Linked DNA regions of Homo sapiens: regions 2, 3 and 4 are each linked to region 1. Evidence: fine-mapped expression QTL. A gene starts in region 1. Each other region holds a variant in brackets. All regions are shown on one strand. Distances are from middle to middle.

What was found. PIP is the estimated chance that this variant, and not a neighbour inherited with it, causes the effect.
Region 2: its variant is fine-mapped to the expression of HACD1 in whole blood (INTERVAL, PIP 0.92).
Region 3: its variant is fine-mapped to the expression of HACD1 in whole blood (INTERVAL, PIP 0.90).
Region 4: its variant is fine-mapped to the expression of HACD1 in lung (TOPMed, PIP above 0.99).

Annotation. Positions count from the first base shown.
Region 1 is chr10:17,612,571-17,620,777 of GRCh38, reverse strand. It overlaps HACD1 (3-hydroxyacyl-CoA dehydratase 1), which reads left to right and starts at 3,404. Exons shown (of 7, transcript NM_014241.4): 1 at 3,404-3,695. The coding sequence starts at 3,439. RefSeq lists a silencer at 3,204-3,863.
Region 2 is chr10:17,551,960-17,560,166 of GRCh38, reverse strand. No RefSeq gene overlaps it. Among named protein-coding and RNA genes, the nearest start is that of HACD1, 61 kb to the left of the region's middle. The variant C/T (reference allele first, on the strand shown) is at 3,857.
Region 3 is chr10:17,645,517-17,653,723 of GRCh38, reverse strand. The region is part of intron 1 of STAM (signal transducing adaptor molecule); the gene reads right to left. Among named protein-coding and RNA genes, the nearest start is that of STAM, 5.5 kb to the right of the region's middle. The variant A/G (reference allele first, on the strand shown) is at 5,041.
Region 4 is chr10:17,694,213-17,702,419 of GRCh38, reverse strand. STAM (signal transducing adaptor molecule) reads right to left here. Exons shown (of 14, transcript NM_003473.4): 7 at 7,179-7,371; 8 at 5,551-5,645; 9 at 2,141-2,229. Among named protein-coding and RNA genes, the nearest start is that of TMEM236, 54 kb to the left of the region's middle. The variant C/T (reference allele first, on the strand shown) is at 4,616.

The DNA.
Region 1 (8,207 bases):
ATGAGTTATTTTCAGTTTGAATTACTATTACTAAAGCTGCTATGAACATTTGGTTTCAAGACTTAGTGTAGACATATGTTTTTATTTCTCTTGGTTAAATACCAAGAGTGAAATTACTGGATCATATGCTAAGTAAGTGTATATTGATGTAAGAAATTGCCAAATTATATTCCAAAGCAGTATTCTTTTTAGCCTTGTATGAGAATGCCAATCCCTGCTAACATTTTAAAATATTAGCCACTTGAGTGGTTGTGTGGTGCTATCTCATTGTGGGTTTAATTTGCATTTCCCAAATGACTAATAAGATTCAGCACTTTTGCATGTGCTATTGGGCATTTCTTTTTTACTTTTTTTTTTTGAGATGGAGTTTTGCTCTTGTAGCCCAGGCTGGAGTGCAGTGGTGCCATCTCGGCTCACTGCAACCTCCGCCTCCCAGGTTCAAGTGATTCTCCTGCCTCAGACTCCCAAGTAGCTGGGATTACAGGGGCGTGCCACTACGCCCAGCTAATTTTTGTATTTTTAGTAGAGACGGAGTTTTGCCATGTTGACCAAGGTGGTCTCAAACTCCTGACCTCAGGTGATCCGCCTGCCTTAGCCTCCCCAAATGCTGAGATTACAGGCGTGAGCCACAGTGCCTGGCCGGCTATTGGCCATTTCTATATCTTTGTGAAGTGTGTATTCAAATCTTTTGCTCATTTCAAAAAATTGAATTGTTTTATTAAGTTGTAAGCTTTCATTATATGTTCCAGATACAAATTCCTTGTTAGAGACATCTGTCGTGAATATTTTCACTTTTTTAATGTTGTCTTGAAAACACAGATGTTTCCCATTTTGATGAAGTTCAATCTGTCTTTTATTTCCTTTTTATGATTAGTGCTTTTTTCTACCTCCAAAATCTTCACCTTCCCCAAAGTCACAAAGATTGTTCTGTATTTTCTTAGAAATTATGTAATTATAGCTTCATGATTAGGTCTGTCATTCATTTCAACTTAATATTTATCTATGGTGTGAGGTAAGATTTATTTTTTGATATGGGTATCCAGTCATTTCATTTACTGAAAAGATTATATTTTCCACATGGAAATTACCTTAGCTTCTTATAAAAATCAATTGACCACATACATATGGGTCTATCCCTGGACTTGATTCTGTTTCACTGATTTCTATGTCTCACCTTATGTGTACCACAGTGTGTTGAAAACTAGTTTTATAGTAAGTCTTTAAACCAGATGTATATGTGCTCCAACTTTCTTCTTCCTATGTACCTCTGCATGAATTTTATAGTTAGCTTGTCAAGTTAAAAAAAAATCTGCTGGGATTTGGAGAGAATTGACATTTAACAGTATGGAGTCTTCCAATTCATGAACAGGCAACAGCTATTTATTTAGATCTTTCATTTCTCTCAGCAGAGATTTATAGTTTTGAGCAATGATTTATAATTTTCAGTGTATACGTCTCACACATATTTTGTGAAATTTATGCCTATATAGTTCATGTTTTTGGATGCTGATTAACGTTGTATGGTTTATTTTAAATTTCATTTTCCAGTTGTTCCGTGTACACATGTAGAAAAACAATTGATTTTTGTTATGTTGATCTTGTAGTTCCAGGAGGTTTTTTTTTTTTAGGATTCCTCGAGATTCCTGGGATTTTCTAGGAAACACATTGCTCTCATTTGCAAACAGTTTTACTTCTTTCTTCCCTTTATTTTATTTTTATTCTTTTTCGAAAAGAAGTCTCGCTCTGTCACCCAGGCTGGAGTGCAATGGGGCGATCTCAAATCACTGCAACCTGTGCCTCCTGGGTTCAAGCGATTCTCCTGCCTCAACTCCTGAGTAGCTGGGATTACAGGCGCCCGCCACCATGCCCCGCTAATTTTTGTATTTTTAGTAGAGACGGGGTTTCACCATGTTAGTCAGGCTGGCCTCAAACTCCTGACCTCAAGTGATCTGCCTACCTCGGCCTCCCAAAGTGCTAGGATTACAGGGGTGAGCCACCACACCCAGCCTTCCTTTCCTTTTTTTTTTATTTTTTTGAGACAGAGTCTCACTCTGTCGTCCAGGCTGGAGTGCAACGGGCGATCTCTGCTCACGATTTTTAAAAATTATTTCCACTAAGGAAACTGAGGCATGGATAGGTTACGTTGTCCAAGTTCACACAGCTAATAAAATGGGAGGATTCAGGAATTTGGGGGTTGTATTTCAGTAGGTGCAAGGAATTTCAAAAGGTAATGTCATCAGTTAAGGCAGGAACCGGCCACACTTCTTTAGTGATTCTTCAGTTACTTTAGGCCATCTGGATGTATACGTGCAGGTCACAGGGGATATAATGGCTTAGCTTGGGCTCAGAGGCCTGACACTTGGTAAATAGACACACACACAGACACACAGACACACAGACACACACACACACACACACACACGCTCCGGTAAAATTCACACAAGTGAGGCCGGGTGCGGTGGCTCACGCCTGTAATCCCAGCACTTTGGGAAGCCAAGGCGGGTGGATCACTTGAGGCCAGGAGTTCGGGACCAGCCTGGCAAACGTGGTGAAACCGTCTCTACTAAAAATAACAAAAATTAGCCGGGCGTGGTGGTGCATGACTGTAGTTCCAGCTACTCGGGAGGCTGAGGCAGGAGAATCTCTTGAATCAGGGAGGCGGAGGTTGCAGTGAGCCGAGATCACAACACTGCACTCCAGACTGTAAAAAAAAAAAAAAATAAGAAATGAAAAAGGAAAAAAAAATCACTCAAGTGGGACGGTCTTCTCACTGTTGGAAGACCTGTTGGACTCGCTAGTAAACGGGAAACAGGGCGAAATAGGCGTTTCTTCCCCAGAAGCTCTTAAGAATGAATGAATGTTTGGCCCAGCGCTGTGGCTCAGGCTTGTAATCACAGAACTTTGGAAGGCAGAGGTGGGAAGATTGCTTGAGCTCACGAAATTGCAGTGAGCTATGTTCACGTCACTGCCCTCCAGCCTAGGAGACAGACTGAGACCGCATCTCTAAAAAGAAAAGAATGAGTGGCGGGAAGATCCCGCTCCCTGCCTGCGTATTGAGAAACTGCCTTACAAAAGGCCAGGCAGGGCAGAGCCACGCCAAGTTCAGGTGCGTTCCCTGTGTCCCCACTAAATGCACTCGCAGGGTGCGCATCGCCAGGGCGCAAGGCGTCTGGGCGTCTCTCTATGAAGAGGCGCCCGCAGCTAGCGAGGCGGGTGCACTTTCCTCGGGAGCGGAAACTACAGCGCCGCCTGGAAAGCGTGCCGGGGCTCGCGGGTCCTGGATCCCCAGTGCCAGGGCCAGGCGTTCTGGCCCCCGAGTGGCGCGCGCTCCCAAGGGGCGGGGCGGGGCGGGGGCGTGACGGGCGGTGGCCGGGGGCGTCCGCTCCTCCCCCTCGCGGTCGGTAGAGCTGGCTGCGCCGAGCCCCCTGCGCGCTGCACATGGGGCGCCTGACGGAAGCGGCGGCAGCGGGCAGCGGCTCTCGGGCTGCAGGCTGGGCAGGGTCCCCTCCCACGCTCCTGCCGCTGTCTCCCACGTCCCCCAGGTGCGCGGCCACCATGGCGTCCAGCGACGAGGACGGCACCAACGGCGGCGCCTCGGAGGCCGGCGAGGACCGGGAGGCTCCCGGCGAGCGGAGGCGCCTGGGGGTCTTGGCCACCGCCTGGCTCACCTTCTACGACATCGCCATGACCGCGGGGTACGCGCGCCGCGGGGCACCCTCGGGCCCTCCCCGCGCCGCGGTCCGCGGAGGTTCCGGGTTCAGGGGGCGCGGGCCGGGGTGTAAGGGGCGCGGGGGGTGCGGGCAGCGGCCGTGGGGGAAGGGAGCTGTCGCCGCGGCCACCGCCGGGGTTGAATGGAGCGGGCGGGGGGGCCGGGCCCTGCGCGCCTGGCATTGCCTAATACGGTGCACGGCGGGGCGCTGGCCGGAGGTTAAGTATAGAACCGGGCAGGAATGCGGTGCCGGCCCGCGGGGGAGGTGGCTGCTGCCCCGGCGCCGCTGCCTTCGCTGCTGTTGAAGGAGCGCCCAGCCCTGGCCACTCGATGGTCTCGGGAGCGCAGAGCTTCATGCTGCGATCGCTGGGCAGAGTTTTCGCCCCTGTTAATTTCACCGCGACTTTTTTTTTTTTTTTTTTTTAAAGCACAGCACGTCCTAGAGCTTGTCACTTGGGACGATTTTGAAATAACCACCCCACTTATCCCAGCGTGGAGCTCCTGCCCAGCATCTTTATGGCCTCAGGCTCCGTGGCTGATAAGCTGGACCTTGATTTTTGGCTTTGAGTATGACTTTGCAAGTTAAGGTTACACAATGACTGTCGCTCTTCGCAGAGCTCTCAAAGTGACTTTTGTGTCAACTGCTTCTCAAAACCTGTTGGGAAAATGCTTTTCCATTTCTCAATTGCACTGCCTTTTAAAAAAGTTATTTTCCCATTATCACTCGAAGTATTAACTTATGTAAACGCGAGGAAAAGTTTACTATTTTCTTTTTTTCTTTTTATTATTTATTTATTTATTTTGAGACGGAGTCTCGCTCGGTCTTGGCTGGAGTGCAGTGGCGGGATCTCGGCTCACTACAAGCTCCGCCTCCCGGGTTCATGCCTTTCTTCTGCCTCAGCCTCCCGAGTAGCTGGGACTACAGGCGCCCGCCACCACGCCTGGCTAATTTTTTTGTATTTTTAGTAGAGACGGGGTTTCACCATGTTAGCCAGGATGGTCTCCATCTCCTGACCTCATGATCCGCCCGCCTCGGCCTCCCAAAGTGCTGGGATTACAAGCGTGAGCCATCCCGCCCTGACAGTATTTTATTTTATTTTTTAGACGGAGACTCATTCTGTCGCCCAGGCTGGAGTGCATTGGCGCGATCTCCGCTCACTGCCAACCTCAGCCTCCGGAGTTCAAGCGATTCTCCTGCCTCGGCCTCCGGAGTAGCTGGGACTACAAGCGTGGGCCACCACGCCCCATTAATTTTTGTATTTTTGGTAGAGACAGGGTATCACCATGTTGGCCAGGGTGGTCTCGAACTCCTGACCTCAAATGATTCCCCCACTTCGGCCTCCCAATGTGCTGGGATTACAGGTGTGAGCCATCGCACCGGGCCTAATATTTTATTTTAATTTTTTAAAAATAGAGATGGCCTCTCACTGTGTTGGCTAGGCTGGTCTCAAACTCCCGGCCTCAAGCAATCCTCCCACCTCAACCTCCAAAAGTGCTGGGATTACCACTTCCGGCTTAATATTTTAAACTTTCTCCAGGGTTTATAGAAAAATGTGATTGACAAAAATTTAATAAATCTTTACCTATGGTGATTGAGTTTCTATTATGTGCTTAGCATATGATATTGAATGCCAAATACAGTTCATACAAATGTTATTTACTGAGGACTTACTATGCAGGGGACTGTGTTGGTTATTTTAGGTGTATTTTTAGTCCTTTAAAGTCCTGTGAGGGGCACATGATATTACATTATATAGATTAGAAGAGTGAGGCACAGATACTTGCCCAAGATCACAGCCAGCAAGTGTCAGTCAGACATGGGTTTCAACCCGGACTCTCTGACTCCACTGTCCTGCTACTTCATCTTTCTTTCCTCCTAAATTATACTCTTGGAAAGTGAGAAAACTAATGTATTTACAACAATTCAGCAATCACGAAATGATGCTGCCTTTAAATGCATTCGGAACTGAAAGAATTCTCTCACCTCTGTGATAGTCTGGTTAATAAACGTTTCCGGAGCCGGGCGCGGTGGCTCACGCCTGTAATCCCAGCACTTTGGAAGGCCGAGGTGGGCGGATCACGAGGTCAGGAGATCGAGAACATCTTGGCTAACACGGCGAAACCCCGTCTCTACTAAAAATACAAAAAATTAGCCGGGCGCCATGGCGGGCGCCTATAGTCCCAGCTACTCCGGAGGCTGAGGCAGGAGAATGGCGTGAACCCGGGAGAGGGAGCTTGCAGTGAGCCGAGATCGCGCCACTGCACTCCAGCATGGGCGACAGAGTGAGACTCCGTCTCAAAAAATAAAATAAAATAAAATAAAATAAACGTTTCCTTGTTATTTCCTTTTTTTTTCTTTTGTTAAGCCAAGCCCTTGCTCTGTTTTCCAGGCTGGAGTGCAGTGGTGCTTACTACAGCCCCAACCCCGAAGCTCAAAGCAATCCTCCTGCCTCAGCCTCCTGAGTAGCTGGGACTACAGGCGCACACCACCATCCTCAGCTAATTTGAAAATTTTTTTGTAGAGTAGGCCGAGCACGGTGGCTCACGTCTGTAATCCCAGCACTTTGGGAGGCTGAGGCGGGTGGATCGCCTGAGACCAGCCTAGCCAACATGGCAAAACCCCGTCTCTATTAAAAATACAAAAATTAGCCGGGCATGGTGGCACAGGCCTGTAATCTCAGCTGCTTGGAAGGCTGAGGCACGATAATCGCTTGAACCCAGGAGGCTGAGAGATCGTGCCACTGCACTCCAGTCTGCACTCTGTCTCACACAAAAAAATAAAACAATAATAATAATAATTTCTGTAAAGACAGGTTTTTGCTATATTGCCCAGGATGTTCTCAAGTGATCCTCCCACAATGGCTTCCCAAAGTGCTGGGATTACAGGTGTGAGCCACCGTGCCCAGCCAGTGAACATTTTGAAATATCTGCCTTGTGTTAACTGGGTGTCTGTCCTTTCTCTTTTCAGTTGACTCTCTGTCTTGAAAGCCAACTGATATTTCAAAAATGAACATCAATGCATAGCTCCAGTTTAAAGACTTCAGTGACTCCCTGCCACCTCCACCCTGATCTAAGGGATTCAGGCTATCTGCCATTCAAGGCTTTTTGCAATCTGCTCCCGATTCCCCTTTCCAGTCAACTTGCATTTGATATCTCTGACTCACTCGTCCCTCAAAGCACCATGTATTTTCACAGCGCTCTGCTTCTGTGCTCAGGTTTTTCACTTTTGTATAATGTTCTCCTGTTATTCCCATGACTTCTAATCAAATCTACCTCTTTGAAGTTTTCCGGGTCTCCTGCCTTACCTGGTGCAGAATTAAATGCTTTCTCCATTCTGTCCCTCTGACCCTTCCCCGGCAAATCAGGGCTTGTTCTAAACTTGTCTCCTTCTGCCTCTACTGAGAAGTTTCCTTGTCATATTTACAAAAATAAGGGATATTGAAATGGAATAATCTCTGTAACTGACTCTTCAGATGCTTTCTAGAGGCGGTGAGATTTGAAGAAGGAATAAGATTTGCATACATAGAGAGTAGACATTTCAGGTGATATAAATTCTGGAAATAGGCATGATATGCAAGCCTGATGTATTCTCTTGATTGAACTGGAGGGTGCTGTTGGGGAATAGTGGTAAATAAGGTTGAAGAAGTTGTAGTGTTGAAATCGGGACAAGAACTTACACGTTTTATAGGGTGGACAGCAGAAGACTAGTTGAGGCTCTTTTTGTTCATTTAACTTATTTCTCTGTTAACAGAACTTTGGCGTGTTTATTAATTTTTTTGTAATAATTTTCAAAACAAGTGGGGAACAGTGGTATGCACCTGTAATCCCAGCTACTCAGGAGACTGAGGCAGGAGGATTGCTTGAGTCCAGTAGTTTAAGACCAGCCTGGGCAGCAAAGCGAGACCCCATCTCAAAAACAAAACACACACACACACACACACACACACACACACACACACACACACACACACCCCAAATTGCAAAGCAACGGAATAGTATTTAAGAAATATTATAAAATTTTACATAAATGTAAAATACAGCTTGTTATTTTATCAGCCTATCACACACTTTCATTTTCTTTTTATCTTTCATATGAATATTTGACCTCTTCCAAGTTTTTTTGTTTTTGTTTTTGTTTTTTTTTTTTTGAGACGGAGTCTTGCTCTATCACCCAGCTGGAGTGCAGTGGGGAGATCTCGGCTCACTGCAAGTTCCGCCTCCCGGATTCTCGCCATTCTCCTGCCTCAGTCTCCTGAGTAGCTGGGACTACTGGCGCCCGCCACCACGCCCGGCTAATTTTTTTTGGATTTTTAGTAGATACGGGATTTCACCGTGTTGGCCAGGTTGGTCTTGATCTCCTGACATCGTGATCCGCCCGCCTCGCCCTCCCAAAGTGCTGGGATTACAGGCATGAGCCACCGCGCCCGGCCCCCTCTTCCAAGTTTTTACTCAAAACTTCATTCTCAAGGAGGCCTTACCTGGTCATCTTAATTTGAAT
Region 2 (8,207 bases), 61 kb after region 1:
AAAAAAAAAAAAAAAAAGAGAAAAGTAAAAAAAGAAAATGTAGTATATATACACAATGGAATATCATTATGGAATTTTATTTCATAAATAAGAATGAAATCTTGTCATTTGCAGCAACATGGATGGAACTGGAGGCCATTATGTTAAGTGAAATAAGCCAGGCACAGAAAAGCAGATGCTCATGTTCTCACTCATGTATGGGAGCTAAAAACAGTGCAACTCATGAAGATAGGGAGCAGACTTGTGGTTACCAGAGGCCAGGAAGGAGTAGGGAAAGGGGATGAAGGGAAAAATAAGGATATAAATGTTTCTGAGGCATGGCTGGGTGCGGTGGCTCATGCCTGTAATCCCAGCACTTTGGGAGGCCGAGGCAGGCAGATTACTTGAGGTCAGGAGTTCGAGACCAGCCTGGCTGACACGGTGAAACCCCATCTCACCTAAAAATACAAAAATTAGCCAGGCATGGTGGCGCGTGCCTGTAATCTCAGCTACTGGAGAAGCTGAGGCAGGATAATTGCTTGAGCCGGGAAGGCGGAGGTTGCAGTGAGCTGAGAAAATGCCACTTGATTCCAGCCTGGGCGACAGAGCGAGACTCCATCTAAAAACAAAAAATGTATTTGAGGCAAGATGGGTAGTCAAGGAAATGACCACGTTCTTGGGACGTAGCAACCGTGGTGACTGTACAGTCAACACAATAAGCCTCAGCATTTGCATTGTAGTTGAGCTCATTCAAGCAAAGTTATCTTCAGTAGGGACTTTCTCCTCGAGAGTGCACACATATTTTGATTTTACCTGTCCTCAAACTCACCCTTTGATCATTATAATAGTAAAAAACACACCCCAGTGTGGAGATTTAAGATGCTAATGAGACATATGATGTATGAAGAAGCATGTACAGCTACTGTACATGTGCACCCAGAAGACCACCCAGAACATGCTTACTAGCAACGCCTCTTCCCACTCCCTCATGAATAATCATGTAAGACTCCCTTTCCCTAGTAACGGTCTTTGCTGTCTCGTCCTTATGAGCAGCTTGCCCTGAATCCTCTCTCCCTGAGGATGTACTGTCTATTCTGTACCTAACTTTCAAAATATTCTTTTTCCTTTGCAATAAATTACTCTATGCTGCATGCCCTACACTGTATGTCTCTTGTTTAAATTCTTTTTTTTTTTTTTTTTTTTTTTCTGAGACGGAATCTTGCTCTGCCACCCAGGCTGGGATGCAGTGATGCAATCTCGGCTGACTGAAACCTCCGTGTCCCGGGTTCAAGCAATTCTGCCTCAGCCTCCCGAGTACCTGGGACTACAGGCACGCACCACCACACCGAGCTAATTTTTGTAATTTTAGTAGAGACGGGGTGTCACCATATTGGCCAGGCTGGTCTGGAACTCCTGACTAGTGATCTGCCCACCTCGGCCTCCCAAAGTGCTGGGATTACAGACGTGAGCCACCGCGCCCAGTCTCTTGTTTAAATTCTTTTAAACTAAGAAGGCAAGAACCGAGGTATCACAACAGCCATCAATGTATTTCTTACCACTGAACTATACACTTAGAAATAGTAAGGATGGTAAATTATAGGTGTATATTTTATCTCAATTAAAAAAAAGACTTTGCCAGATGTGGCTCCTTGATGTTGGATTCTTAGCTTCCATAACTGTAAAAGATAATTCCTTTTCTTTATAAATTACACAGTTTCAGGTATTCTGTTATAAGCAATAGGAAACAGACCAAGACAGAGGTTCAAGGACCTATCATAGGAAGAGTTAGAGGCAGGAAGACTTCTGTATAATTTCTTTGAATACTTTATTTGTTTATTTTACTTCATTTTATTTATTTATTTATTTATTTTGAGACAGAGTCTCGCTCTGTCCCCTCCAGGCTGGAGTACAGTGGCGTGATCTCAGCTCACTACAACCTCTGCCTCCTGGGTTCAAGCGATTCTCCTGACTCAGCCTCCCGAGTAGCTGGGATTACAGGCACCCGCCACCACACCCGGCTAATTTTTGTATTATTAATAGAGACGGGGTTTTACCATGTTGGCCAGGCTGGTCTTGAACTCTTGACCTTAGGTGATCTACGCACCTCGGCCTCCCAAAGTGCTGGGATTTGCTGGATTACAGGCGTGAGCCACCACGCCCAGCCTTCTTGAAATACTTTAGATTGTGTAACAGGGTCACATTTCACCCCTCCTGTTATGTATGTCCTCACACATATGTGTGGGTTTCCCGTCCCTTCCTTTCAGAAGTGGGGTCTTTTTCTTCATCCCTGTGCGTCTGGATCACCCTTGTGGTTTAACTGAAAGAATATGGTGGAAGTGATGTGTACGCAACCTAGAGCTTAGGTGTCAAGAGGCTGTTGAGTTTCTGCCTTCATTTTTTTTAGAATTCTGTCCTAAGATATATAATGAAGTCAGGCTAGTGTGGAGGAGGATGAGAGGTCACATGAGAGAGAAACAAAGAGCTCTAGGCAATAGCCAGTGACATCTGTCAGTCAGGCACGTGAGGCCATCTTGGATCTTCCAGCTCAGATCGTCCCTCAGTTGAAAGCAGCCACCTAATTGAGCCCAGGCAAAACCAGTGGGGGACCACCTAGCCAATCCACAGATAAAGATCACTGTTATTTTAAGACATTAATTCTAGGTGTGGTTTGTTACTCAGTAACAGATCACTGAGACAGTGAAATTTGTGGTCAAGTTGTCCTAAAAATGGTATGGAGCTCCTGTGAGTTAGTGAGTTCACCATCAATGAAGGTATTCAAGTAGCGGGGGAAAGAGGAGGATCATTTGGGAGAAATAATGTAGCGGAAGTTTAAATATCAGAAGAGGGGACTAGATGTTCTTTTTTTTTTTTTTATACGGAGTCTTGTTCTGTCACCCAGGCTGGAGTACAGTGGTGCAATCTCAGCTCACTGCAACTTCCACCTCCTGCGTTCAAGAGATTCTCCTGCCTCAGCCTCTGAATAGCTAGGATTACAGGCGCGTGCTACTATGCCCAGCTTATTTTTGTGTTTTTAGTAGAGATGGGGTTTCTCTATGTTGGCCAGGATAAGACCAGATGTTCTTAAAAGTTTTTTCTGATCACAAGATAATAATCCTAGGGACCTGATTATGTAATGATCATCTTAGGTATGCCTGTCATTATGCACCATATATACAGACCGTTTTCCTGGCAGATGATTTCTATCAAATGAGAGAACAAGATTTACATACATAAGAATTAACAAACAGAAACCGAGTTAAAAATTGGGCGACATAAGAAATCATTAAATATAAATCTTAGAAGTGGAATGGGAGGTGGAACTTGAAGATCATTTGCTTCAGTTTCGCTCCAGTGCTGAGCTTTCCTCAACAACAGCCCTAGTGGATTAATATACAGCCCCTGCACAAATATGTCAAGTGATGGCACCATCCATTTTGGGGCAGGCCATCCTCACTTTTTTGAACGTTCATCCATTCCCACTATTAAGACAAAATTTGCATCCCTGTAACTTTCACACATTTACTCCTTGTCTGCTTTCTAAAACCACAGAGAATAAGTCTAATTTTTCCACATGGCATCTCTTCAAATGTCTAAAGACATTTACCTATTCCTTCAGGTTAAAGACAATCAGTTTCTTTAAATATTCTTTTTTGTTTGTTTGTTTTTAGACAGAGCCTTGCTCTGTTGCCCAAGCTGGAGTGCAGTGGTGCAATCTCGGCTCAGTGCAACTTCCATCTCCCAGGTTCAACCAATTCTCCTGCGCCTCAGTCTCCTGAGCAGCTGGGATTACAGACATGCACCACTACGTCCGGCTAATATTTTGTATTTTTAGTAGAGACAGAGTTTTACCATGTTGGCCAGGCTGGTCTCGAACTCC[C/T]GACCTCAGGTGATCCACCCACTTTGGCCTCCCAAAGTGTTGAGATTACAGGCGTGAGCCACGGCTCCCAGCCTAAATATATATATAGTATATATGTGTGTGTGTGTGTGTGTGTGTGTGTGTATATATATATAGTATATATATGTATAAATATATATATAAAATATATATTTTATACATATATATATTTTTGGAGACAGGTCTTGCTCTGTTGTCCAGGGTGGAGTGCAGTGGTGGAGTCATGGCTCACTGCAGCCTTGAACTCCTGGGCTCAAGCAATCCTCCCACCTCAGCCTCCCTAGTAGCTGGGACTACAGTTGTATGCCATCATAGCTAGTTAATTTTTGTATTTTTTGTATATTTTGTAGAGATGGGGTTTCACCATGTTGCCCAGGCTGGTCTTAAACTCTTAGGTTAAAGCTATCTGCCCACCTCAGCCTCCCAAACTGCTGAGATTATAGGCATGAGCCACTGTGTCTGGTTGGTTTCTTTAAATATTCTTTAGGAAATTATTTTGAGACACTATTGTATCTAATTTATACTTTACACAATTTTTTTACACACTTCAGTTTTTAAAAATGTCTTAACATCTGATGCGCAGGACTAAGAACAATATTCCACATATGTTCTTACCAGTGATTCACAGGATGAGACTGTTCATTTCTGTAATGTGGCCGCTATACCTCTGTTTTTGAGACACTAGGATTCCAGGATGGAGGATTTGGGAATGTCTCACTGTAGTATTGTGCTATTGATGTGGAGAGGAGACAAAGAGGGGGACTGTATTTGTCGTTTCTAGAGGGACAGAATATATATAATATATATAACTGATGTATATATTTTTATATATATCATAATATTATATATATTCTCTAGAGTGACAGAACTGATATATATATATATATATATATATCATATATATAGATTCTCTAGAGGGACAGAACTGATATATATATATATATCATATATATAGATTCTCTAGAGGGACAGAACTGATAATATGTAATATCTATTATCTATTATACATATTACCATATATAATCTATAATATAGATATATCAGTTCTGTCCCTCTAGAGGATCTATGTATATTAAATATATTATATTATATATTATTAAATATGTCATATATCATATATATTATTAAATATGTTATTTAATATAAACATAAATATATATATTTAATATATATTTTATATAATATATATCATATCATATATGATATATGATATATAATATTATATGATATATGATATATAATAGATGATATATGATGTGTGACATATATTATATATCATATATGATATGTGACATATATTATATATCATATATGGTATGTGACATATATTATATATCATATATGGTATGTGACATATATCTATATCATATATGATATGTGACATATATTATATATCATATATTATATGGGAGTTTATTAAGTATTAACTTACATGATCACAAGATCCCACAATAGGCTGTCTGCAAGCTGAGGAGTAAGGAGAGCTAGTCTGAGTCTCAAAACTGAAGAACTTGGAGTCTGATGTTCAAAGACAGCAAGCATCCAGCACAGGAGAAAGATGTAGGCTGGGAGGCCTAGCCAGTCTCTCTCCTTTTCACATTTTTCTTCCTGTTTAATATTCACTGGCAACTGATCAGATGGTGCCTACCAGATTAAGGATGGGTCTGCGTTTCCCAGCCCACTGACTCAAATGTTAATCTCTTTTGGCAACACCCTTACAGACACACCCAGGATCAATACTTTATATCCTTCAATCCAATCAAGTTGACACTCAGTATAACCATCACAAGGATAAAAGTCACGTCCTTATGTCACTGCTAATAGAGAGCTGGCTGGCTCTCCCCTTTTTGTCGTCCCCTTATATAAGAAACCCTACTTTGGTGATGGTAAGGTTTCTGTCTTCTCTGTTGGCCAAACCCACTGATCTCATTAACTGCCTGCAGACTCAGTCTGGAACTCACGCGGTTGAAGAGCTCAGTCTTCCTTCCCTGTATCCCCTAGTTGTTGGTCACGTCACTGGAGATTTGCCTGTATTTCCAACCAGCCTGCAGCTGATAGCACTAGACTGAATTTCTCTGATGCACATTCTTCTCTGTCCTTTAATGAAAGTATTGCCAGGAAACATGCAATCCCCACTTTCATTATTTACTCCTCTTAGCCCTGGATCTATGACTTTGGGGAAGCCAACGTGAGACAGAGATGGAGGGAGAGGTGGAGGATGTGGTGGTGGTGATGTTAGGTATGGTGGGTTCTCCGTCTCTATGTCTTCTCTGCCTGGCCATACCAGGCTTTTTTCCCTACTCTAGCAGTACTTATGTGGCCCAGTGAGTGAGACGCCAATTCATCCTGTTACCCACATAACTATAAATTTTTTAATATTAAAAATTATTTTTTGTAGAGCTACAGTCTTGTCATGTTGCCCAGGCTGGTCTTGAACTCCTGACTTTGTGCAGTCCTCCCACCTCAGTCTCTTCAAGTGCTGGGATTACAGGTATGAGCCATAGCACCTGGCCCATATAACCATAAATTCAACTGTTTTGAGGGTTGTGCCCTTGGTTTTGCAAAGGCGAGGACTGCATTCTACCAAAATAAGCCCTCTTCTTTTTCTATCCCATTCATCTTATAGCTCTTGTTAGTAAAGACCATCAAGATATCTAAGGACAAGGACAGACATCTCATACCAAGAACCAGACCCCCACTGAAATGCCGCTTGGGAAATGTAATAACGTCATTCTTCACCGAGATTCCTGCACTATTTTATAACTGAGAGGTGCAAGAGTAGCGACTAACTCACTTTTTATTTTGTTACATGTATCAACTGCCTCTTCTTATTGAGCTTGCAGCCAATTACACTCTATTTACTGACACAAGTGTGTGAAATAGATAATCATTTGGAGAACAGCATGCTAATTATGGGCTAAAAAAAGTTAAGAAAACATTTCATTTGATTTTTGTCCTGAAAAAAAGCATAGGATTGCAATGGGATGAAATTCCAGATTGAAATGGTATGAGCAGGAGTGTGGTGGTGGGACTGTCTTGTGAGTTGTAGGGTGGGGAATGGGAAGAGGGCGATGGGGTTAGAGAGGATGTTAGCTGATCTGCAGATCTGTCCCCACAGTCTTGGCAGACGCTGTTGAATAATTTACAGGTTTCAATTCTAAAGAGTCTTGGATCTAGGCTGAAGAATTTAAACGAGGCTATTGAGAATTTTTGAGAGAGAATTAAATGCAGATATTACATTATATATACATATATACATATATAAAACTATATATGTATATACAAAATATATGTGTGTATATATGTGTAAACATATATACACACATATATTTTTACAAGTATATATTACACACATGTATACATATATACATATTTATATATATTATACATACACACATATATTTAGAGATAGAATTTCACTCTGTTGCACAGGCTGGAGTGCAGTGGTGGCACAATCACGACACACTGTAGCCTCCACCTCCGGTGGTCAAGCGATCCTCCCATCTTAGCCTCCCAGGTGCCTGGGACTACAGGCACACACCACCACACCCGGCTAATTTCTGAATGTTTTCATAGGATGGGGTTTTGCCATGTTGCCCAGGCTGGTTTGAACTCCTGGGCTCAAGCAATTCACCTGCCTCGGCCGCCCAAAGCGCTTGGTGTACAGGCATGTGCCACTGTGCGCAGCCAACATTTGATATTAATATGGTGATCATGTTCAGGATAACCATGAGAGAAGCAAATTAAGCCTTTGTAACATGCAGTTGTAAGATAAAGAAGATTCGAGTCATGGTGGAAAGGAAGGGATTTGTTTGAAAAACACTGAGAAGAGGAAAACAAAATCTTAGAAAATCTGAAACAAAATGAAAGAAACCCTCATTTTGGCCCCAGGTGATGTAGGCCTGTATTTCATAAAAAGGAAGAAGGAACAGAAAGGCAATGGTAGCTGCAGTCTGACTCCAAAAGTCTTGAGAATAGCATAGGTTTTTCTTGTAAGTTTCCTTTTTAGTAGTTTCATTCAGCATCGCACACAGAAGAATTCCTAAACATTCTACTTAGCTACCTCTCACTTCCCCAGATTTTCCTTTTGCGGCAGGCACTAAAAATCCCCTCCTTTATCAATCTCTTCTTTTTCCCTTCTCAGTCTCTCTACTGCTTTTGTTGTTGATCCAGCCTACCCTCCTCCCCAGAATTCTGCACAGGATCCTTCCCTCCATGTGCAGTCTCCTGGGAAGGCCTCGTGTAGGGAAAACTCTCTCTCACCGTGCTTTTCCTCCACCCTCACACCACAACAATCTTCAACACAGAAGATTTCTGTGACGGAATGCTTTTT
Region 3 (8,207 bases), 33 kb before region 1:
TAGATCACTTATCATGCCTAATTCAATGTAAATGTTATGTAAATAACTATACTGTATAGGGCATAATGACAAGAAAAATGTCTCTATGTGTTCGGTACAGACATGATATTTTTTCCTCTACAAGTTTTGATCCACTGTTGTTTGAATCCATGAATGCAGACCCCCAGATACAAACAACCACCTGTATGGAGCTAGATCTGGGAGGGTTCCAAACATAAAGCTTCTGTGCTAGGAAGCTTCATCACCCTCCAAATACATCAGTGTGTATCACCACAATGTGTATCACCTACCAGAATGCTTAACTGAGCTTCAGTGTTCAGAGTTTTTATCCTGTTTTATCAAAACAACCTGTTTTACCAAAACAAACATTTAACTCTGTGAGATGAATCCACACATCACAAAGCATTTTCACAAATAGCTTGTTTCCAGTTTTTATCGCGGAATATTCGGTTTTTCAGTGTAGGTTTCGATGGACTGGGAAATGTACCTTCATGGATTCTACAATTGGGGTGTCATTATATAGGTATGATTTATGAAATAGGACCACACAGTGGAACTTAATCTCCAGGTCCCTATCCTTCCCAGGAGGTCCTATGACTCAAAGCCCAAATCCTTTAATCACATGGTTAGTCCTTCTGGAGTGGCCAGCCCCCAGACCAAGTCATCTTATTAGCATAAACTAAGCTATTATCCCAGGGGCCCACCAAAAATAACAAAGATGCTCTTATCACTCAGAAAATTCCAAGGATTTAGAGGCTGTCTCCTAGGAAACAAAGACTAGTCAAATTATTTATCATTCAACACTATAAGAGAATTTTATCTTAAAAGAAACCCAATATATACAGCAAACCCAAGTGGAAGTGCTCTGATTGAGGAGTCCCAGAGCCTGCTCCCTAGGTACTCAACCCCTCTAAAGCCCAAGAATATTGAGTGAGTCATTCTGAACAATATCACTTACTTCATCTTAGAAAAGGAAAGCATGTTATTACTTTGGTCTGGTAGTGCATTTTAATAATTAATTCATCATTCTCACTGACTGGTAGCCAAGCAGGTTGTTTTTTTTTTAAGTGCATTTTTTAAAAGAACACACTTAAATTCTAAAACCTGCCACCTTATTCAAAAACATAATAGCTAAGCATATTAAAACTTATTAAAAAGTTAACAGTTTATCTGATCAAATATAAATTGCCTACTATCATAGTTGAGTGCTATCTTACAGTTCTTGATTAATGATACATCCAGGAACATATGATACAGTTATCAGCAGATATTATGTTGAAAACTCATGAACTACTTTATTACTTTCCTACACATAAATAGAATCAGCATCTGATTCATATTTGTATGGATGGATCAGAAACACAACCCACTTCAGAAATCTAAAATTGTTCACATCATTTATTGAGGCTGTCTCAAAATCATCAAAATCAGTGGCACAATTCTTCTCAGTTATAAAAGAACAAGTATTTTTTTTTTAATCAGAAGGATATAAACTACCTACAACATGGTTCTGTGAATAGCAAATGAAGTCAAAACTATTTATTTTCTAAGACAAAAACAGGGTTTGTGGGAAAAGGAAAAGTGACAAAAATAACAGACTTGCTTCTAAAGAATTCAAAGCTTCATAATGATCTCATTTTATCCTGAGAATATCCTTACACTAATACTCAAAAAGAGGAGATTGAGAAATCTGCCCAGCAGTACCCAGAAAAAACATACACAGAGCCTCATTTGAATTTCAATAGTCTTTTCAAAAGATTAGAGAACTTTTTCTGATAAGCAGCAACTTTTGATTTTTCTCAAAATTTATCACTGTCAAAGATCTGGGGAGGTAAGAAATGCTGACAGGAGGACTTCGCATCACATTTAGGTGGTGAGGAAAGGACTGTCATTCAGTCAGCCCGAAGATGTAACAGTTCATTAAAAATGGCCAATGGAAAAGTAAGTCTGAAAGAAATTATCCTCTTTGCAAATCAATTCTTCAAAAATCTTTCATCTAATATCCCTGATCCTCCTGGAAACTGTATCTGCAAAGAAATGTAATCTGAAGCTCTGCTAACCAGAAAAAGAAGTAGGTATCAAAAGAACAGCATGGAAGCATTTCAGAGAGGAACATAAAACAGAAATGATAACCTAAAGGCATTAGAAAAAACAGCTTAGAGGAGAGGTAAAATAGGGACAGAAGAATCAAAGAATACAAGTTCTTAATCCAGTGGATATCAGATGGTTAACATACTTGTATTCTGAATTTTCACATTTCTCTCCTATGTTTTAACAGTAACTGATTGCACACCTTAGAATCCAATAGTCCCCACATCTATTTCTAACTTGATTATAAAAGGAGCTAAAACGTATCCATTGGTTACTACATGCCAGGTGCTATGCTAAGTGCTTTACATGCATCATCTCCTCAAAACAAACCTACTGAGGATTAATGAACAAATAGGTATGTCAAGCCAGAGGATCCACACCTGAAGAGCACAGTGGCATAAAACCAATAAGGAGTGAAATACACCTGCAAGAAAAAAGTGGAAGGTGAGGCTCAAGAGTCACAAAGAAGCCAAATATAAGAGGCCTTACATGCCCTGCTGAAAAGTTCAAAGTACTGTGAAAGCGGTAGATTCTTCAGAACTTTTTTTTTTTTTTTTTTTTTTTTTTTGAGACGGACTCTCGCTCTGTCACCAAGGCTGGAATGCAGTGGTGTGATCTTGGCTCACCGCAAGCTCCGCCTCCCAGGTTCACGCTATTCTCCTGCCTCAGCCTCCTGAGTAGCTGGGACTACAGGCGCCCGCCACTACGCCCGGCTAATTTTTTGTATTTTTAGTAGAGATGGGGTTTCACCATGTTAGCCAGGATGGTCTCGATCTGCTGACCTCATAATCCGCCCACCTCGGCCTCCCAAAGTGCTGGGATTATAGGCGTGAGCCACCGCGCCCAGCCCTCTCTAGAAATATTTTAAACGGAGGGGCCACGCGTACATTCACATTTTAAAAATATCACCATCAGCCATCTGGAAAATAACTAGGGAAAAACTGGAAGCAGGGAAGAACAGCTGGAAGCTACTGTACTAATCTGAGAGAGTGGTGATCTAAACCTGGAATCCTTGAGGGCATATTCGGTACCAGGGTATCTGGCACAGGGTAGACAGGATACATTTGTTGTTTAGAATGTAGAAAATTACAACTACAGAAGTCAAGAATTACTCCCAAGTTCACGACTTGTATGACTAAGTAAACTTAGGTACCAACTATCAAAACAGACAAAAAGCATAATTGAGAAGAAAAATTTCAAATGGTTTTGAACATGCTGAACTTGAGATATTTGAAGCCTATTCAACTCTGGTAAAGAGTCAGAATGTCATGTGTTTTCACAAGTAATCCTCATAGCATCCGCATGATGTATAATGGATATTGCTATCCCTATTTACCAAAGTAGAAAGTGAATTCAAAGGGGTCCTATACCTATCCAACTATACATTGTGTCCATTTACTAAGAGTAAATGCTGCAGGTGCAATTTAAGCCCAAAGCCCAAGGTCTTTCTATCATATCACACTTCAGGAGAATGTGACATTAACATTTAAGATTCATCTAGCTTATGATTTATGAGGCTGACTGGACTAAGCAAAGCAGACTAAAAAAATGTCCAAGTATGTAGGATGTGGACTGGCCCAAAGCAGTCTGACTGGGAACACAAATATTCTATTATAGAAACAAAGACATATGATGATTTAGCAGAGGCAGGGAAATGATTCAAAGATGCCTCTTGGGTTTCAAGTCAAGATAACTACAACACTAAAATATTACCAAATTGGCTGGGCCCGGGTGCCTCACATCGGTAATCCCAGCACTTTGGGAGGCTGAGGCAGGCAGATCACTTGAGGCTAGGAGTTCAAGACCAGCCTGGCCAATATGGCAAAACCCCATCTATATTAATGTAAAAAAAGATTTAAAAACAAACAAAAATGTTACCAAATAATGAATGAAGAGCCAGACTTAGAAAGATAACTTCAGTTTTCTGACAGATGAATTTGTTTTGGAGGGAAAAAAGAACAGCAAATAGAAATACAAGACTAATGTTCTAGAAAAACACCAATAATTCATTATTTGATAAATAATTCTTGAGTGCTTTCTATGTACCAGACACTATCCCTAAAGTATTAGGGGAAAAAAAATGAAAAGTTCTCATCTTAATGGAGTTTATATTCCACACAAAAGATAATCAATCAATTAATGTCAGGTCACTAAGTACTATAAAGAAAAAGAAATGGAACAAAGAAACAGAGTGAGAGGGTAAAGATGCATTTTTTTTAATTCTTTTTTTTTTTTTTTTAAAGACAGGGTCTCACTCTCTTGCCCAGGCAAGAGTGCAGTCATAGCTCACTGCAGCCTTGACCTCCCAGGCTCAACCAATCCTCTGGATTCAGCATCCCGAGTAAATGGGACTACAGGCATACCACCATGCCAGCTAACTTTTTTATTGTTTGTAGAGACAGGGTCTCATTATGTTGCCCAGACTGGTCTCCAATTCCTGGCCTCAAGGAATCCTCCTGCCTCAGCCTCCCAAAGTGTAGGGGTTACTGGCGTGAGCCACTGCATTCAGCCCAAGAAGGATATTTTTTACAGAAGATTATTAGGTAAAGCGTCTCAGAAAATGACGTTTGAACAGAGTCCTGAATGGGTGTGATGAATATCCAGACCTTCAAATACCTGGGTGAGGAGTATCCCAGGCAAAGAGTACCATATAGCTACAGAGGCAGGAATGAGCTTGGAGCGTTCAGATTTAAGAAGCCTGGAATTCAAGAGAGTGAGTCTGGAGATCATAATCATATCAGACACACAGGAAGAAGCCATATTGTGAGCCACAATAAAAAAACTTGCATTTCCCTTTAAGTAGGATAGGAAGCTACCAGAGAACTCTGAGCAGGTAACTGACATTATCTAACATTTTTAAAAGATCACTGACCTTTGTAAATGAGAACTGATTGTAGAGGCAAGAGTGGTAACAAAGAAACCTACCAGAAGGCTCTTGCCACTGACTAT[A/G]AGAGATAACAATGACTGAAGTAAGGTAAGAATGGTGAGACAGAAAAAGGTGATGATGTGTCCGGAGTTTGTTCCCTCTGGTGGGTTTGTGGTCTCGCTGACGTCAAGAATGAAGCCACGGACCTTTGTGGTGAGTGTTACAGCTCTTAAAGGTAGCACGGACCCAAAGAGTGAGCAGCACCAAGATTTATTGTGCAGAGTGAAAGAACAAAGCTTCCACAGCATGGAAGGGGACCCGAGCCGGTTGCTGCTGCTGGCTAGGGTGCCCAGCTTTTATTCTCTTATTTGTCCCCGCCCATGTCCTGCTGATTGGTTCATTTTACAGAGTGCTAATTGGTCCATTTTACAAACCTCTAGCTAGCTACAGAGCACTGATTGGTGCATTTTACAAACCTCCAGCTAGCTACAGAGCACTGATTGGTGCGTTTTTACAGAGCACTGATCGGTGCATTTTACAATCCCCTTGTAAGACCGAAAAGTTCTCCAAGTCCCCACTTGACCCAGGAAGTCCAGCTAGTTTCACCTGTCAATGAAATTCTGGATATATTTTTAAAGTACAGCCAAAATATCTTGCTGATAGGATGAATGTGAAGTGTGAAGAAATAAGAAGAATCAGTGATACTCCTAGACATTGGAGCTCAGTGACAGGAAACAGTAATCATGTTGTCGTCTACTGAGAAGGGCAAGGATGAAGGAATGAGCAGGTTTGGGCAAAGAACTAAGAATTGAGTTTTTGAATGTTTGTTTTTAGACTCTAAGCAGAATCCAAATGGAGATGCTCAGTAAGGAGATGGATATCTAGGTCGAGAGCTCAGGCAAGAGGCTGAGAGTAAGAACATAAATCCAGGAGTCACCAGAATACGCTAGGTATTTAAAGCTAAGAAATTAGATGAGGTTCTTTTTAAAATCTTACTTAATAAAAAGTACAGAAATTTTTCTAAGTGCTTTACAAATATTAACTCAACCCTCTTAACAACTCTCTGAGGTAAGAACTATTATTACTCTTATATTCCATATTAAAGATAAGGAAACTGAGACACAGATTATCTAAGCAACTAGGCCAAAAATCACACTACCGGTAAGCAGCAAACCTGGGACTGAATCCAAGCAGTGTGGCCCCAGTCTGAATTCTTAACACTAAGCTAAATTGCTTCCTAATACTCTAAGGGAAAAAAAAAAGTGGAAGGAGAGAAGAGGCTCCGGAACTGAGCCGCAGGGCACTCAACTTTTAGAAGTTGCAAAAAGGGGAAGCAAAAAAATTTAAAAGGAGCTAAGTAGAAAATGAGAAAAAGTTTGGTGTCCTGAAATCCCATGAATAAAATACTGTATATCAAAGAGGAATGCTTAAGAGATCAAAAAAGAAATGGACTAGAAAGTGACCATTGGATTTGGCAAGGTGGAAGTCACTAGAGACTTTGAAATACAAACTTGATGAAATAAGTTATCTTTACGTTTCTTCTAAATTCAGCTCTTGAATTATAATGTCCAAAATGAGATTCATTTATTCCATAAATGTTTACTGAAAGTTCTTCAGCATGCCAAAAACTGGTCTACAGCTAGGGATACGGCAGTGAAAAAATCAAACAAAAATCCCTGTCCTCACAGAGCTCACATTCTAGTAACATCTTTCGGTGTTTCTTCCAAGGGAAAAGCTATCACCAGCATTGTGTCTCTTTATAAAAAATGTTATATTATATAAATCAGTCAGTGAATTTCTGATTCAGCCTCAGATTAAGACTGAAGACAATTAATTTTGAAGATGTGCAAATGTATACGAGTGTTAAGTGATAAATAACTGTATCAAATGAGTTACTTTAATGTTATGACATATTCATTGGTAGATATGGTGAAAGAAAAAATTGTTAAGTGTATTCTATACACTGTATTCTATATGTTATACTATTAAAAAATAATATGAGTCTACTGGACTCTGTGCAAGGCTTATGTACTGGGAATCTCTGAGGGGTCTTCTTAGATAAACCTTTTGTAATATTTCAATACAAGGATTGTGAGAAGAGAATTGGTCCAATACCAAAACCTGAGCAACTTTAAAAAGTAAGCTTTTCTGGAGCAAAACAATGTTGCTACACTGAAGAAGTATAATGTCTGGCAGGCTCAACTGACACATTCTCAACTCAACAAACATTATTAAACACCTCCTATGTAGCAACCTCTCATTAAGGAGTATAAAACTATCTTGAATGCTAAATAATTCGGTAAAGGCAAAAATGCTAAAATAAGTTAGAGGATTTTGTAAGAAGGTGGAAATTAGAGTGGACTAGTGCAGCGGTTCTCAACTGGGAGGTATTTTGTCCTTCCAGGGGGCATTTAGCAATGTCCTGAGACTTCTAAAATCATGAGTGGGGGCTGGGTGTCACCGGCATCTAGTGGATAAAGGCCAGGGATAAGGCTGAACACCCTACATTGCACAGGACAAACTCCTATGACAAAGATATTTACCTGGCCCAAACCGTCAATAACGTTGCTACTGAGAAACCCTTTGCTACAGTAATCAGGAAATGACTCAGGTGTAACAAGTTGGATTCTGAGTTGGCCTTAACACACAAGGATATGTTGAAAGATAAAAGAAAGCATAAGCGTAGGACAAAAGCATAAAGGCAAGAAGGTGCCTGTGTTTGAACTGGGTGGTACAGCTACTAGGAACGGGTTTGACATTAAGAAATTTACCTGAATCCAATGCAAATATGTGTTCACAAAGTCAGTAGAATATAAAGGTGATTGGGTAGTTGCTAGCTAAATTATACAGGACCAAGAAAACTAGACAAAGGTGCTGTAAACAGAAGAAGCAAGTATTAAGAAGCTGTTTTAAGTATTTCCCCTAGAGATTCATGTAGTGAGATGTAAAACTGCTTGAGAACAGCAACTAGGCCTTGCTCATCACTGTATCTCTTATGTCACTGAGCTGCTGTGTCCTGTAGTGTGTGCTAACTGCTTATTAAATTAAATGCAATTTTCCAATTCATTAAGTATAATCGGTGATCTCCAAGGTTCTGTCCACTGCTAAGATTCAGGACACTCATTTAAGGTGGAACAAAAAAGGTAGCATCTAGTAAGTGCCAACCACATAAAGGTACTGTAGCAGGCCCTCTAGACATATTATTTAACTGCAGAATGGAATGATGTGTTTTCCCCTCTTTAAAGACAAG
Region 4 (8,207 bases), 82 kb before region 1:
CACCATTACCATTCAAACAACAGTCTCTGTCATGTATTTCAAATTGTTTTTTTCCTTGAACTTATCATATTTCTACTCAATTTCCCCTCCAAAATTTTATCCTAATATACTTGAAAGTTTTCTACCGATGACCATATGGGATTTCTTTGCACTAAAAGTATGTAAACTGATAATACTCTCAGTATTAGATTCATTCATATGTATAAGGTAATGATTATTATTATTAATATGCAAAGGGTCAAAACAACATTAACTATATTTCAAGTTTTGAAAAGTAAAATGAGCCAGGATTCAGCACCAGTTCTATTCCTATTTTTTGTTTTTATAGTTGAAAGTGAGGAGAAATTTTGTTCATATAATCAAGCTATTATAGCAATTTCATTAAGTTCTTTCGGTATCTTCTGAAAGATGGAATGGAATGACAGTGGTCTGTCATTAAAAATTATTTTTAATGATCTACTAGCTGAAAATTCATTTTGGTCCTATTTTTTAAAAACAAAAAATATGGAACCATCTCAGCTGTGTTAACTAGTCATTAGAGCCATGACTTTCTTAATACCAAAACCAGTATATGAAATCATCCCTGGTAATTCTTATACTCTGAGGCAATGTACCACAGTAATCTTCACTACGGGCAAGCGGTAAGCCTTTCTTCCGTAAAGTTGGAGAGAAGAATTGAAAAGGGAGAGGAGGGGGGTAAAAACGAAAATGGTAGGAGAGAATGTTCTCGGGCAGATCAATTTTAGGAAAGAATGCTATGGTAACTGAGGATCGGAAAAGATTCTCTTTAAATTATCCATACCAAGGGCCAAGCAAACTTTTTCTGTAATGGCCCGCCAGTAAATATTTCAGGCTTTGCAGGCCATATGATCTCTGTTGCTACTACTCAATTCTTCCACTGCAGCACAAAAGCAGCCAAACAATATATAAACAAATTTATCTGTGTTCCAATAAACAGGCAACAGGCTAAATTTGGCCTAAGAGTTTGCCAACTCCTGATCTATACAATGTGACACTTCAAAAATCCTTAATGGTTTGCTAGTTGCATAATTTAATGTATTATTAACTCAACAGTTGTTAATGTTATTTTTAAAACATGGTAATAAGTTTGAGTAGAAAAAGACAACCACAAACATACTTTTTATTTTTTCATAAACACGCTTAAAGATGAAAAAGGTAGCCAGTTTTAATCTTTTCTTTATATGCAGTAACAGCAGATATTTCTATAAAACTTAACTAAATAGGAGTGATTAACTTAATTCAAGAAATCTCAAATTTAAATCCCAATAATACCAATTTGGGTACCATTATGTGGCTCCAAAAAGTATGGTGTGTCACCAAGTTGATATTATATTTTTGAGCATAATTACTAAAAATATACATTGTTTCAGGTGTGACAATGACATATGAAGACATTTAATATAAAATTAGCGTAAGCTTTTCCTCAAATACTAGAAAGTGTTCAACACAAGGAGGAATCATGAATCATCTCCAATGATATTCAATATATTAGCACTGCTTTTATGCAATGATTTATGTAGAAGTAATTTAATGACAATTTTATTTTTACAACAGTAATTTATTTGTTTCAATAGATAGTCAATGAGTGTCCCTTCCTCAGTCATGTGCAAACAATCTTAATATCCTTGTTGAGTATGCTGGGAAACAGGAGTTCTCGCATGATATGAATACGAGTGTAAAAACTTGTTTTGCTCAACAATTTGACATTATCTATTAACATGGAAAATACACAAATCCTTCAACTCAATAGTTTCACTCCTGAATATCTACCCTAAAGAAACACAAAGATAGATGTTCAAAAAAAAAAAAAATCTCACTACTACACTGTAAAAACTGTAAACAACCTAGGCATTCAACAATAGATTAAATAAATCATGGTAAGGCCACTCTACAGAATATTCAGCAGGAATTTAAAATAATGAGGCTCTGGCACGGCAAACAAAGGACTGGAGAGGAAGTTTCAAAAAACAGTCTGCATCGTCTATATTGCTTGAATTTTTATAAAAAAATACAAAAATTTTTACAACAAAAAAACTCAAGTAATCAATTTTTTCTTAAAGCAAAACCATTTAAATTTCAATACAAAGTACCAACTCCTATCACCATGGAAACCACTTACTTCATCAATAAAGGCTGGTTCCGGCTCTGGTTCTATTGTCTCTACCTGAACATCATCACTAAATTGTACCGTCTTCTTCTCTGTTTTAACTGTAAGATATGTAAAAGTTATCTTTTTTTAATAATACATTTAAAATTCTACTTTAAAGCACTTTAACTTCCAAGAGAGATTTGGGGATTTTTCTTATACTCCCAGCAAGCTAAAAGGCGCAATTTAAGAAATAACTGAGTTGCAGATTTTGGCAGTAATAACACAACATTACTTTATGAAATTGGATTTCTTAATTTTCTCTTGTAAACATTTTACAGTTTCCATAAAAAGAGATTTCACTAATAATAAGAGTTGTATTTCTGAAAAAAGGTTAATCACCTACTACACATCAGAGTTTAGTAAGCTGGAGGACAAAAGCAAAGTTTTACAATGGCCTAAGTGAATTCTGCAATTTAAAATAAACCCTCTTTTTAAATTACTAATCCTTCAAGAAAAAATCTCATTTGGTAGAAAAAAAAAATCTGGTTTGACAGAAAATCCACACTACTCCAATGTAATGAATGGGAAAATCAGCTATGTATTATCTGGCGTGCCACGTAGGCGTTTAGAGAGCGCCGTCCATGCCAGTGGAGAACTTTGCAGGTGGCCTTGACAGGGGTCTCAGTCTTCCAACAAATCAGCCTGTATTTTCTAGTTATATAATATTATCATTTGACATTAAAAAGTGGTCATTGAGGGATCAACAATTCATTGGCCAGAAGCACAGATTTCTCCTACTCACCAAAGCAATCTTTAAAAACAATTTAACATAACAGTAGCTATATAACAACCTCCAAATACTACTGAAAGGCATATACAACTCTACTAAACAAACTTCCTTTCTATATTTTTAATCCTTGCATCAATGTGGTCAATCAATTCATAAAAATATTAAGAATCATGATGGAAAGGAAGACAGGAGGGGGCAATTTAAGGAAGGGAAATAATGTTTATTAAACTATTGAATATGCTTGATGGAATATTACATTTCCTCCAATGAATCTCCCAATCTTATGAGATATGCCCTTTTTATAAATAAGGTAGTTTGGAAAGATTAAAAACTTTTGTAAAAGAGAAAGCTAATAAATGACAAAGCCTGGATTTGAATGCCAATCTATCTTGCTCTACTAGCCCATACTACTGAAATCTGGCCTGTGCCAGTGATTTTACCCCGAGAACATGAAGTCCAATCACTTGGGTACTCCGTGTTGTGTGCTTCTGTATAACACAGAAATAGCTTAATTTCCAACCTAAGAAATATAATCATTCCATTCAAGTCACCAAAAGCAAAATTCTACAGCTGATTCATTTTCCTATAAAGGAAAAGAAACATCTGCTGCAGACATTTTGCTTTTTATATCTTGAGCTATTACAAGTAGAAAGCTGGGATAGCACTGCATTGGCCATTACCCATAAGAAAAACATGGCAGACTTCATATTCTAACAGCTCTTGACGCGCAAGTTTGCAACCCCTTTTCTCACAGGAACTAATACTATGTGTGTGTAAAAAAATATATTATTTATATACAATATATAACAAAGGGATTTCACAATATTTTACTGTATCTCCAAACCAAAAGCAAGCTAAATAGGGCAGCTATTTCTCTTTGACAGGCTAAGTGAAATAGACTTCTATTTCCTCAAAAGAATGATGCTCTGGGGATCATGCTAGCACCTGCACCTGTTCTCCACGCTTGAGAACTACAACCCCACTACATAGGCTCTGATGCTTCAGTTTCTCTTTTAGATCGTCCAGAGTGAAAAACATGAGAAAAACTAGAAAACTCATATTGAAGCTGCATTGCTATATGACTTAAAAAAAAAAAAAGATGAAATGGCTCCAGGATCTACATGAGATCCTTGACCTTATCTTGAACAGAACTCCAAGCAATTCTATCCTCTCCAGGAACTGATTCAGGACAAAAAAATAGTCCAAAAACAAACAAAACATCATTACCAGCCCAGGTTATTAAAAAGTCAGCACACTACGCAATGCCATTTAAACAAGGTTGACATGTTTTTGAATTCTCACAGACATAGAAAACATCATTGAAAGACTGGGTCTCACCAATCTGTCTCTATAAAAATGACACCAGACACCCTGGCAATAACTATGAGAGCGCACCATTTTCTTAAAGATCTGTAATTTCTGGTTTGCTGTTCAAGCCTTCTCTTGAAAGAGAAGTGAAGTATCTCTTTATTGTTAACATATATATTTCTGTATCATTTATTCTATAAATATGTAGTATGTATTATAAGACTCACTATTAGGAGCTGCTGGAAATAAAAAGATGACCAGGACAAAGATTTTTTTTCTTAAAATTCTTATAAACTAAAAAACACCTAAGCATCTTGTGGTTTGTAATTTTCTTTGATCCCTTCTATCTAGCATTAAAAAACGATAATGAGATATTTTGCCAAATAACTGTAGCATATCAACCTATA[C/T]ATATAAGCTCTTTAAAAATTTTAAATATTTTATTACAAATACAAATCTTTCTAGATTTGAACATATTTTTCTGTTTTCCTAGAGGGGAGATTATGACTTAAACTTTGCTTGATGACTAAACTCATCATTATGAAGATTCATTAAAGCACAATATTATGTAGAAATATAGTAAACTGTCTCTCACTACTTTGACCGACTATGTAGCTATGTCTCCTGAAACTGTTAAGCCTGCCACTAGTATCACTTTTTCTCCACGGCCCCACTTTCTAGTTTATTATCCTACTCAGCAGGGTTTGTAAATCAAACAAAAAACTTTTATATGATTAGTAAAAATGGCTCCTTCTGAATATCTGACATGTTGCTTGGAGAACACTGCTTTCAAGTCTGGGACTACACACTAGAGAAACGGTCCCAACCTTTGAACAAGAAAAATCCTCCCTGAGGTTATACTGTACTTGTCACACTGTAATCAACTGGTAAGAAAAATATATAATGTATAAATTCTGTAAGACTTCTTAATGAATTTGCATTTTTACAATGACCTCTACATAGATACATATGAAAAAGAAAAGTTAGGCCAGGTGCGATGGCTCACGCCTGTAATCCCACCACTTTGGGAGACTGAGGCGGGTGGATCACCTGAGGTCAGGAGTTCAAGACCAGCCTGGCCAACATGGTGAAACCCTGTCTCTACTAAAAATACATACACACACAAAAACAGCTGGACATGGCGGCGGGTGCCTGTAATCCCAGCTACTCAGGAGGCTGAGGCAGGAGAATCACCTGAACCCAGGAGGCGGAGGTTGCAATGATCCGAGCTCGCACCACTGCACTCCAGCCTGGGCAACACTGCTCTAAAAAGTTCAGTTTACTCAACTTCCATTAAGAAAAGGATTAGAAAACATCATTTATTGGCAGGCTGGAAAATACTTACTCATTTCTGGTTCAGCAGTGAGATCTGCAGTCACAAAATTAGAAGGAAATAACCCTATGCCTTGATGGGTTTCACCTTTCCACCAGTTAGGATCACTATGACAAACAAAAAACAATGCTTTACCATAACAAATGTATTTATTTCTGTACATCTTTATCTTTTGTAGTATTCAACTTACACTATTACAAAATTTGAATCTCACAATAACCCACTGAAAAAGCCAATGAATCTTCCTTTATTACAAAAGAAGAAGAAGCCTCAGAAAAGGTAAGAAGCTATTCAACACACAGTTGTTTATCTTCTTGACTGCCAATGCATGCTCTGCAGTTATGGACTCTCTCCCAAAAAAAGAGGCACCAATACGAAAAAATTGTCAGCTTCAGATGGTTCACAGGCTCCAGAGTAAGAAGTCTTTGTAATGAGCTATAAAGACAGGCTCTTATTTTCAGTCTCCATTCCTAAATCATTGCTCTTTCTGGTACACAGCAGCAAGGTTTTTTTTTTCTCCCAACAGAACGAATGTCAAAGATGACACTGTTCACAGTGCAAAACATTCGCAAAGAGTACACTCCTAGGTGTAAACTCTAGTATATGGAAAGCTAGCAAGCACTCAATACATGTTTTTGAAAGAACAGACGTAAGGTTTTGGGCAATTTCCAGCTAACCAGCTCAAACTTTATTTTCTTCCACTCAAAAAAAAAAAAATGTTAAAATATGTCTGAATGTTTGTGTCTTCCCAAAATTCACAGGTTGAAATCCTAACCCCCAAAGCAATGGTATCAGAAGGTGGGGACTTTGGAAAGCGATTAAGTCATGAATGAGATTAGCGACCTTATAAAAGAGACCCCAGAGGGCTCATTTGCCCCTGCTGCCATGGGAGGACACAGCAAAATGACAGCCTTCTACAAACCAGAAAGTGGGCCTTCAACACACAGTCAATCTGTCTGTGAGAAATAAATTCCTGTTGTTTATAAACCAGTTAGTCTACGGTAGTTTGTTACGGCAGCCCAAATGGACTAAGGCAGTAAGTAAGAGAGACACTACAGGAAGAACTTTAAATCAATTTGAACTGATTTTTAAAAAACACCTGCAAATTTTAATACTTCATTATCAGTAACAAGCATCAGTAACAATTCATTTTCAAGTAAAACATCACAAAGCTATAGTAAAAAAATAAACTGATGCACTGTATCACCTCCTGAATAAATGTGTAATTCCATACAAAATAAATTTGTTCCCTATGGCTATACTGTTCTGTGTAAAAAAAACTCAATAGATTATATATTTCTTACAAATTGCATTAAGTACATATACATACTCAGTGTTTTTCTAAAACTGTAACCTTTTAAATAATGTAACCATCTATATTATTAGGTGGAACCGAAAATGAATAGATTAAACTAGGCCTCCAAAACAAATTATAAACTAAGTAATAAATAAGAAAAAAATTAAACAACAAAATAAGAATCCACCCAGTATAACACAAGCAAATCAGCCAACTGTCATACAGAGCAGCATCTGGGTCAATATTTATTATTGTATTTGGTAACTGCAATCAACAGGAATAATATGAAACACAGAAGCCATACACACTTTCATACAAATTTTAAATGTAATATTAACATTACCTGTCATCAAGAACTGTAATAATTTCTCCAGCTTTAAAAGTAAGTTCATTGTCTTCAGCAGCTTCAAAGTCATATATAGCACGAACTTTTCGGCCTTCATGTTGGTGGTTAGTTAAGAGACTGGATGTGCTTGGATACAAAGTGGAAAGGGTGGTTGACTGCTGCCTTTGTTCCTTGAGAGACAACTCAATGGCTAGAAAACAATGAGTTTTTAAAGACCCAAAATGTTATTATATCCAACAGTCTGAAGAAGTAGAAAAAGACATCAAGATAAAAGGTATTCTTCCTTCAATAGTATAGTTAGAAACTAGAACATATCCTGATACATTGAACAAAAATCATTTTGTCAGTTTATTCATTCATTCACAACTGAAAGTTTAAAAATAAATTAACAAAATTGGAACAGCATGAAAACTCCTATTTTTACTGAACAAATACAATGTAAATTATTCTGGGTAATAAAAAATACAAACTCTTAAATCTACTTTTCTTTTTTAGCTGCAGATATTTTCCTTGACCTTTTTTTCAAAATAATCATCAAAACTGCCTGGAAAGTCAAGAATATCAAGCTTCACTGCAGACTTAATAAATCAAAGCCTTAAAGGCAATCTTGGAGAATCGAGATTTTATTGCTCCAAGGGTAATTCTTACCAGTCTAAAGACTCAACCTAACAAATCCTCCAAAATAGATCTCAAACGTGTCTCTATCTCCACCACTACTTCCCAAGTGCAGACCATCACCATATGTCACTCAGGCTCTGAAATGTAATATCAGTGCATTGATTATCCTGCTTTCAATTCAACACAGAACCCTTTCTGCTCTTCCGCTCTTGTTTTAGAGTAATAAAAGAAACAATACGAAAACAAAACTTTAAAGCTACTAAAAGTCAATACAGAAAACTATCTTTTAGGACCTTGAGGTAGGGAACAATATTTTTCAAAAGCCATTACAAAGTAAAAATCATAATAAAAAAGCAAACAACTCTGGCCTTCACAAAACTTAAAATTTCTACTTGATAAAATACACCA